Homo sapiens: one gene and its partner. The protein of the gene in region 2 binds, or shares a complex with, the protein of the main gene of each other region. Each region holds a gene or a part of one and is shown on either strand. Other genes may lie near its edges. A codon is read from its position in the direction of its gene.

What was found.
Region 1: the proteins of ADGRF1 (region 2) and GNAI1 are in contact, whole or in part, in a cryo-EM structure (PDB 7X2V), measured with the Homo sapiens proteins. Residues at the interface, in NP_722582.2 of Homo sapiens: Lys615, Gln618, Thr619, Arg623, Leu682, Arg685, Ile686, Val689, Phe690, His692, Val765, Lys768, Leu769, Arg771, Arg788, Ser792, Ile795, Leu796; in NP_002060.4 of Homo sapiens: Arg24, Glu28, Arg32, Leu194, Lys314 (codon at 2,538), Asp315 (codon at 2,541), Glu318 (codon at 2,550), Thr340 (codon at 2,616), Ile343 (codon at 2,625), Ile344 (codon at 2,628), Asn347 (codon at 2,637), Leu348 (codon at 2,640), Asp350 (codon at 2,646), Cys351 (codon at 2,649), Gly352 (codon at 2,652), Leu353 (codon at 2,655).

The regions. Positions count from the first base shown.
Region 1 is NC_000007.14:80,214,831-80,218,330, forward strand, and holds part of GNAI1 (guanine nucleotide-binding protein G(i) subunit alpha-1), read left to right. Parts: intron 1-2,472; coding exon 2,473-2,663; 3' UTR 2,664-3,500. UniProt on the Homo sapiens protein: Guanine nucleotide-binding proteins (G proteins) function as transducers downstream of G protein-coupled receptors (GPCRs) in numerous signaling cascades.
Region 2 is NC_000006.12:47,032,333-47,035,832, forward strand, and holds part of ADGRF1 (adhesion G-protein coupled receptor F1 isoform 1 precursor), read right to left. Parts: intron 1-3,500. UniProt on the Homo sapiens protein: Adhesion G-protein coupled receptor (aGPCR) for N-docosahexaenoylethanolamine (synaptamide), an omega-3 fatty acid lipid highly enriched in the brain.

The DNA.
Region 1 (3,500 bases), on a different chromosome or scaffold from region 2:
ACGTCATCTTAGCTCTCTTATCCTTTCATAGTCGTATCTATTCTCAATAGGTTAAATTTTGTGGTCAGCCCTAATTTCTCTCTGGAGCCTTAGATTTACATTAGCAACTGCTTGAACATACATGTTTTGTTGTTGTTTGGTTGGTTGGGTTGGTCGGTTGGTTGGTTGGTTAGCACCTGAAGCTCAAACAGAACTCTTTTTCTTGTTTACACTCAGATCTCTTCTCTTTCCCTTTTGATTGTGTCATCAGCCTCCCAGTTCTTCATTTTTGAACCTGGTTATCACCTATACTTACCTTTGTTCAGGACAATTCTATCACACATTAAAAAACAATCTATCATATTTGCTCTCCTGTCCCTGCTTTGCCATTTGTTTCTTAAGACTTAAAATCAGAATGAAGAATGTTCATTCATATGTGTTGTAGCTTTTAGGGTAATCTAGCTAGCTGCCTAGGATATATAGAGCAAATTGAGCTAGGCACTCAATGTAAGCTGTTTGGCTGAAGCATAGTTTAATTTAGCAGTTGCATTAGCTTCTGTGGGCCAACAAGATGCTGTTGATTGCTTTAAAATTTTGGAGAACGAAACTTATGATTTAATAAAATTTGATTTTTAAAAGTATGTGATTTCTAGTGATATAAAAGAGTTAAAATGTAAACTTAAAGACGATAGCTTTAGTACCTTTTTATCCCTAATAAAAATCTCATAATCTATGCTGTCATAGCACATTACACAACATTCCTATGGGCATTTGTCACATTGTATTACACTGGATTCTATAAGATATAAAAGGAGTATGAGGCTTGTGGGGTATGATATTTACTCTTGAAGAGTTCACATTCTAGTTTAGGAGATTCAGCACTGAAAAAGAATTTAAGACTCTATAAAGCAATATAACAAAAACTGAAATAGTTATTTCTAGGAGGAGGAAAAAGTTTTTAAGTGATAGAGAACCCAGCTAGATTTGATTAATTAGGAAAAGTTAGATGGAGTGCCAATTTTGAGCAAATGTGAAGGCAGGCAGAGATCTCAGCCGGTGAAGTAGAATGAAGAGGAAGTACTACAGTACCACAGGTGGCAGTTTGCATGTTAGGTCCTCACGACATGGACCTGGGGTGAGCGCCAGTGTGGAGGAGAGGATCTCAGAATGATGGCACTGCAGAGCAGGCTGGGTAGTAGAGGACCTTGAAAGTCTGGCAGATAATTTTGGATTATTACTACAAAAGAGGGGTTTAAACAGTTTTTTTCCAAATGAAATTTGAATGTTTTTCAGTTTTTTTATTGAAGCATTACATAGAGCATTACATTATATACATTAATGTATATTATAATATTATGTACATACATACATACGTACACACACACCCTCAGCATAAGTGCGTGTTTAAAGGTTAATGTACCAGTATCCACCACTCAGGTCAAGAAACCAAACAGCTTCAGGACCCCAGAAAGCCCCATCATGCTTCCTCTCAGTCTTAACCAATCAAACCCTCCCCACAACACACACATAACACAATCACAACCCATACACATAGTAATCACTGATTACTCACTGATAATCACTGAAGACCTTAATAAAAGAAAGAACACAAAGGAAATATACACCCACTTCACATGTTCCACAGACACTATTGGTGAGGTTTTTGTCCTCACCAGTTCATTTTTCAAACATTGTTGGATCATACAGTATGCGATCTTTTTGCATCTAGCTTCTTTTGCTCAACAGTACACTTAGGAGATTAATTCATGTTACTGAGTACTTTCATTCTCACTTCTTCTGTGTCTTCAGTGATACACAGTTCTGTCAAGTGTATATCTAGAAACTGAATTGCGGGGTCAGAGTGTGTGTGTGATTATCTTTAGATATTGCCAAACAATTTCTGGAGTGTTTGTACTCAGAGGAAGTCTTTTATAGTCAATAACCTGAAAGCTGGAGTGTGTCATTCACTTTTTTTGTAACCTCATACTCCTAAACATCATTGTAGACCTTGGTACAATTTTTGAATAAAGAAAAATGAGTGAAGAATGCAAATTAATGTATATATAGAAAAGGGAGGAAAAAATACTGATCAGCATTCAGCCAACATTTTTTGATCCACCATTGGGCCAGAACTGAAATAGCATGCCGTCGTCAAGCATCTGAGCTGGGGTGTAGAGGACAGAGGATAAGAGGATAAAAGATCTGGCATTTGAGGATTGAGGCAGGAACAAAGATCATGATGAACACGGAATGCCATGTAAAGGAAATTTTTTGTTTAAGGGATAACTTAGTCATTAAAGGTAATTAACATGGAGTGTTTTTCATTTAGAAGAAATAGTGTCTCCCATTCTAGAAGGGAAAGCACAGTTAAGGAGTCCATGAATGAAACTGTATGAAACTGACTTCAGTTTCATATGTATGAAACTGAATTCAGTATTTTAAGCAGTTATTTTAACTTTTTGCATTTATGTTTCTTTCCTTTTTCCATCTCAGGATCAAACACATATGAAGAGGCAGCTGCATATATTCAATGTCAGTTTGAAGACCTCAATAAAAGAAAGGACACAAAGGAAATATACACCCACTTCACATGTGCCACAGATACTAAGAATGTGCAGTTTGTTTTTGATGCTGTAACAGATGTCATCATAAAAAATAATCTAAAAGATTGTGGTCTCTTTTAAGTTTTGCAGTTCATGGTAAAATGCATTTTCAAACCAAATGAGTACTTATATATGGATCTCTGTAGACTAGAGTCTTGCAGCAACACAGAATGTAATATAAGGCAAATGCATCTGGGACTTGACCAAAGTTGTTCTGTTTTGTTTTTTTAACTGAAAGTAACAGAAGGACCTTTCTTAAATGTGACAGATGGTCCTGCAGTGTGAAACTGAAGGACAGTGTTAAAGCTGGGCTCTAGTATATTGATGATTTCTGCATAAGTGTAAATATGCAAATGTATGTATACATGTATTTATGACTTTAGTTTTCGACATTATTTTTAGGTTTTAAGAGTGGCAACTTAGGATTTTAGGGTGATGGCTTTGGAAATAACATAAATATACCTTGTACTGAATGACAGACTATTACTACGTTTGCCAGTTTTAAACAGCTTTATTTATGTTCATGTCCTGTAAATTTTTAAGTACAGTAATTAATATTAGGAAACATTACAGCCCTTATCTAGATTATATGTATACTTGTATTAATAAAAATGTTATTTGTACAAACATTGCACAGACTATTTTAATAACATGATTTGTTCTTTAAATTTTATGTGTTTTATTGAAATGTTCTTAAGATGAATACACCTGCCTTTGGATCAACTATTTAAACATTGTATGCATTTTGATTTTTCCTACTTTAAGAAAATAAAATAATTTAATTTTACATTAGATTCCACGTTAGATTTGGTTTGAAAAACTAAAATTTCAGATTTCTGAGGATATACTGTCTTAGACTTATTGTACACACTTAGTTTTTATTCACTTGTTTTCACTCTGAATTTTAATATTTGGCTG
Region 2 (3,500 bases):
ATTTAGGAAGTAAAAATACAAGGTACCCTCAAAATTTTGAATTTCAAATAAACAATATTTTTTTAGTTAAGTATGCCTTGTGCAATATTTGCAACATTATTTGTTGTCTAAAATTATTTGTGTCTTATCTGAAATTCAAATTTAACTGGACATCCTATATTTGACAACTAGTCAAAGGTGGGAAAAAATGAAATCTCAAGGCACATGGTCAAAATGGGCTCTGTAGCTGTACTAGCCAGGGTCCTGTTCCCAGCTTTGACATTTATCAACTGGATGCCCTTTGGAATTGTCTCAGATTTTCTATACTTTGGTTTAGTCATCAAGAATACAAGGAAAATAGTATTTAATTCACAGGTTCTTAGGAGAATTGAATGAGTACTTTGCAAGTAAGGTACCCAGAGTGGTGCCTAGTATTTCAACCTTACCATCAGTTTTTATAGTTACTTGCTGGATTGTGTCAGAATTTGACTTCTCTGAGTGCACTTGGGTTAACTGATGGCCATCACTCTGGAAATGGAGGGATCCCAGCTTTGAAGCAATAAAGTACATTTTTACAGTAATTGAATTATCTGACTCAAAGGAAGGTCCACAGCAGCAAGGATGTCAGGGATTGCTTTGCGTGTGTGCAGGGTCATCATAAATCCCTCTGAACTTCGCCTTTAGTAAACATAAACCCCATGGTATTTTCATCGCTTCCCTTCCAAGCCGGAATGGTCCTGATTATTTAGAAATTCTCAGAATCCTTGTGTCCTTGCCACAGATGAGGAGCTGTTGTTGTCATTAGAGCATGACATGTTTCCATCACACCTTGTGCTGTGGCTGCTGGGGCCAGTGATGCCTGAGCTGCAGCTGTGTGGGCACCAGCTTCCGTGGGAAGGCTTGGCCATGGTGGGACGCCCCCTCCGCACTTCCTTGAATTCATTCAGTGAATTCATTCCCTGTCCTTCAGTTTACAGGGAACAATCATTAGAACGTGCTATTATGCCTCTGGAGAGGGCTGGCTGTTGTCTCCCTATTCTTTCAGTTATATACTTACGGACTCCAAATATCATTTATTTATGCCAACAGCTGTCTCCTTATCAACAGCAGGCTTAGTTGAAACTGCTCACACCTATACTTTCCAGCATTCTTGGCAACAATCTAATCTTAGGCACAGTTGAACTCTGCGCTGTTTCTCTGGCATCAATATTTATGGGATTATGTTTCTTTCTCTATAAACAGAATTCCCAGTAGAGCTGTCTCTTTCCTGTCCGTCTTGGCCTCACATGCGCCCATGCGCACACACACATTGATGAAAAGAGCAGGTCTCCACATAGGATCTAAAAGAAATCATGACTCAAAAAGAATTAGGCAGGTGACCTGTAAAACCTTGGTTTTGCTTTATCTCTCATTTTATCAGTTTTTGATAACATTTTCATTGGCATCTATCTTTTCTAGGAAGTGTTGGGCCACTTGCCTTTGAGAAAAGCTCCTGTGTGTTTCTGTAACTGAACAGAGACAGAGGAGAAGACAGCTGAGAAAATAGGTGGGAGGACAGAAAAGATAGCCACTTCCATCTTTGGAAAAATGGTTGGAGGTTTGGTAAGTTATATGAGCGAGACAAACTTCCTCTGGAAGGACAGTAATTTAAAGTCATTTAAAATCTCAGGGAAGGTCTATATATATGTGTGCACAGTAAAATTGTAAACACGTTTTATATTTTCACATGTTTTAGCACATTCATGTTTATAAACACAGCAGGAAGAGGTCTGGATGAATTACACTGTAACCTCATGTTTGTACCTCTTCCGTGAGGATTTGTGAAAGTTAAAACTCTGTGGGCTCGGTTTCCTCCTTTATACAGTAAGAGGAAAAATAAAGTGAGCTCAGATCTATTCACATTCAGGTTTCATTATTACATGCCCATTCCCCACATTCTATTTGTAGATTACTTATTTAATTGTTCTTTTATCAATGTCTGGCAGTCACCAAACCTAAGCCTGGAAAGATTACCGATTTCTACTCATCTTTATTCTTGTTTTCTCCTCAAACTGGTTATTAAATTCTTTAACATCTTTTGAGATGAGCTAAGAACCTACTAAGAATTTAATTATTGGGTTCAGAACAGAGGTATAATTTTTAAGAATTCTGGACTTGTAAGTCTGGAAGCAACAAAAAGAATTACTTGGCTCAGTCACTCCTCCCCCAGGACACTTCACCAATCTGTGCTAAACTTGCATTTGTTCAACTACCGTATACTGACAGCCTCCAATTTCCCAGGCATTGTGCCATGCACTGGCTGTTAACAATATGCTCATGCAGGATTATCACACATAGTAGCTCCACACCTCAAGAGAAACTCCAAAAGCCACAATCCAGACCCACTTTTGGGAACTTCTGGTTACCGAGAATCTCTGTTCCAGGATCCCTATTTTAACTCTCCTATGTTTCATTGACTGGTTGTGCCTTCAGAGTCCAGTTTGTGACCCTACCTCCAAATCTGATCCTTTTCCATCCCAGAATTGAGATATGTGCTTATAAGTTTGTGTTTCCTTTGCCACTCATTAGAACTTCATTCAGCTCAAGAGTATTTCTCCTGCTGCTGGTGCCTTCAGCCTAGCACAGCTGTCTGCTCCTTCCTAACGAGGATTCTGTTTTTCTATTTAGTCTGCGCTTTGCATCTGAGAAGAGCTTCACTCAGGATGATTTGTTGTTTTTAGCTCATTGCTCAGTATGCCTTCTGGCATTCTAGTAGGATTCATTTCCCACAGAAGACCAGTCCAGCTCGTTTCCACTGTAAAAGGCTTAGCTGCAAGCCTCATGGGTTGGCTCTATTCCAAACCCTTGTAACTGAAGACCCAGCCGCTTGTGGTTCGGTATAGCAGGAGTGACCATGAAGCCCTTAAAAGATGATTAATGGCATTCCGCAAAAGATGCCAAGCTCTTTCTTCTAGCCAAGATTTCAGCTTAGTAACAGGACCCAGTCTTCCTGTAATTCCTAGGTAGGGCTTATTTCTCATCTCCTCTACTTGACTTCATTTAAAGTAGGTAAAGTCCAGATAATTTGAGCTTCTTGAATTGTTTGCTTTTAAAAATAAAAAAGTACCTGAACAGAACTCCAGAGAGGTGATAGCTACCTAATTAAAAGAAATAAAATAATTCCTTCTAATTTACAAAGTGTTTTTAATAAGTTTTGATTTGATTATTTTGGCAATTGTGTAAGTTAAGTGGAATTTATTTTCATTTCACAATTGCAGAAAATGAAAAGGTAACATTTAAATTCTAAATACAACGAATTTTTTAACTATTTCCCTAAATTTCTCAGCCCAAAGAATCAAGTATTTCCCTTAGATCATGAGCCGGTTAGTTTTTGTTGCTTGGGGCATGATTTTAATAAAATCATGATTGTTAATTTGATCTCCACCTGAGTTCCTTACAAACAATTCTTTTCTCAGAAAAAGGAAGAACGTACATTTCAAACCTATCTTCCTGTTCCTGCATTAATTTGCATGTTCTCACTT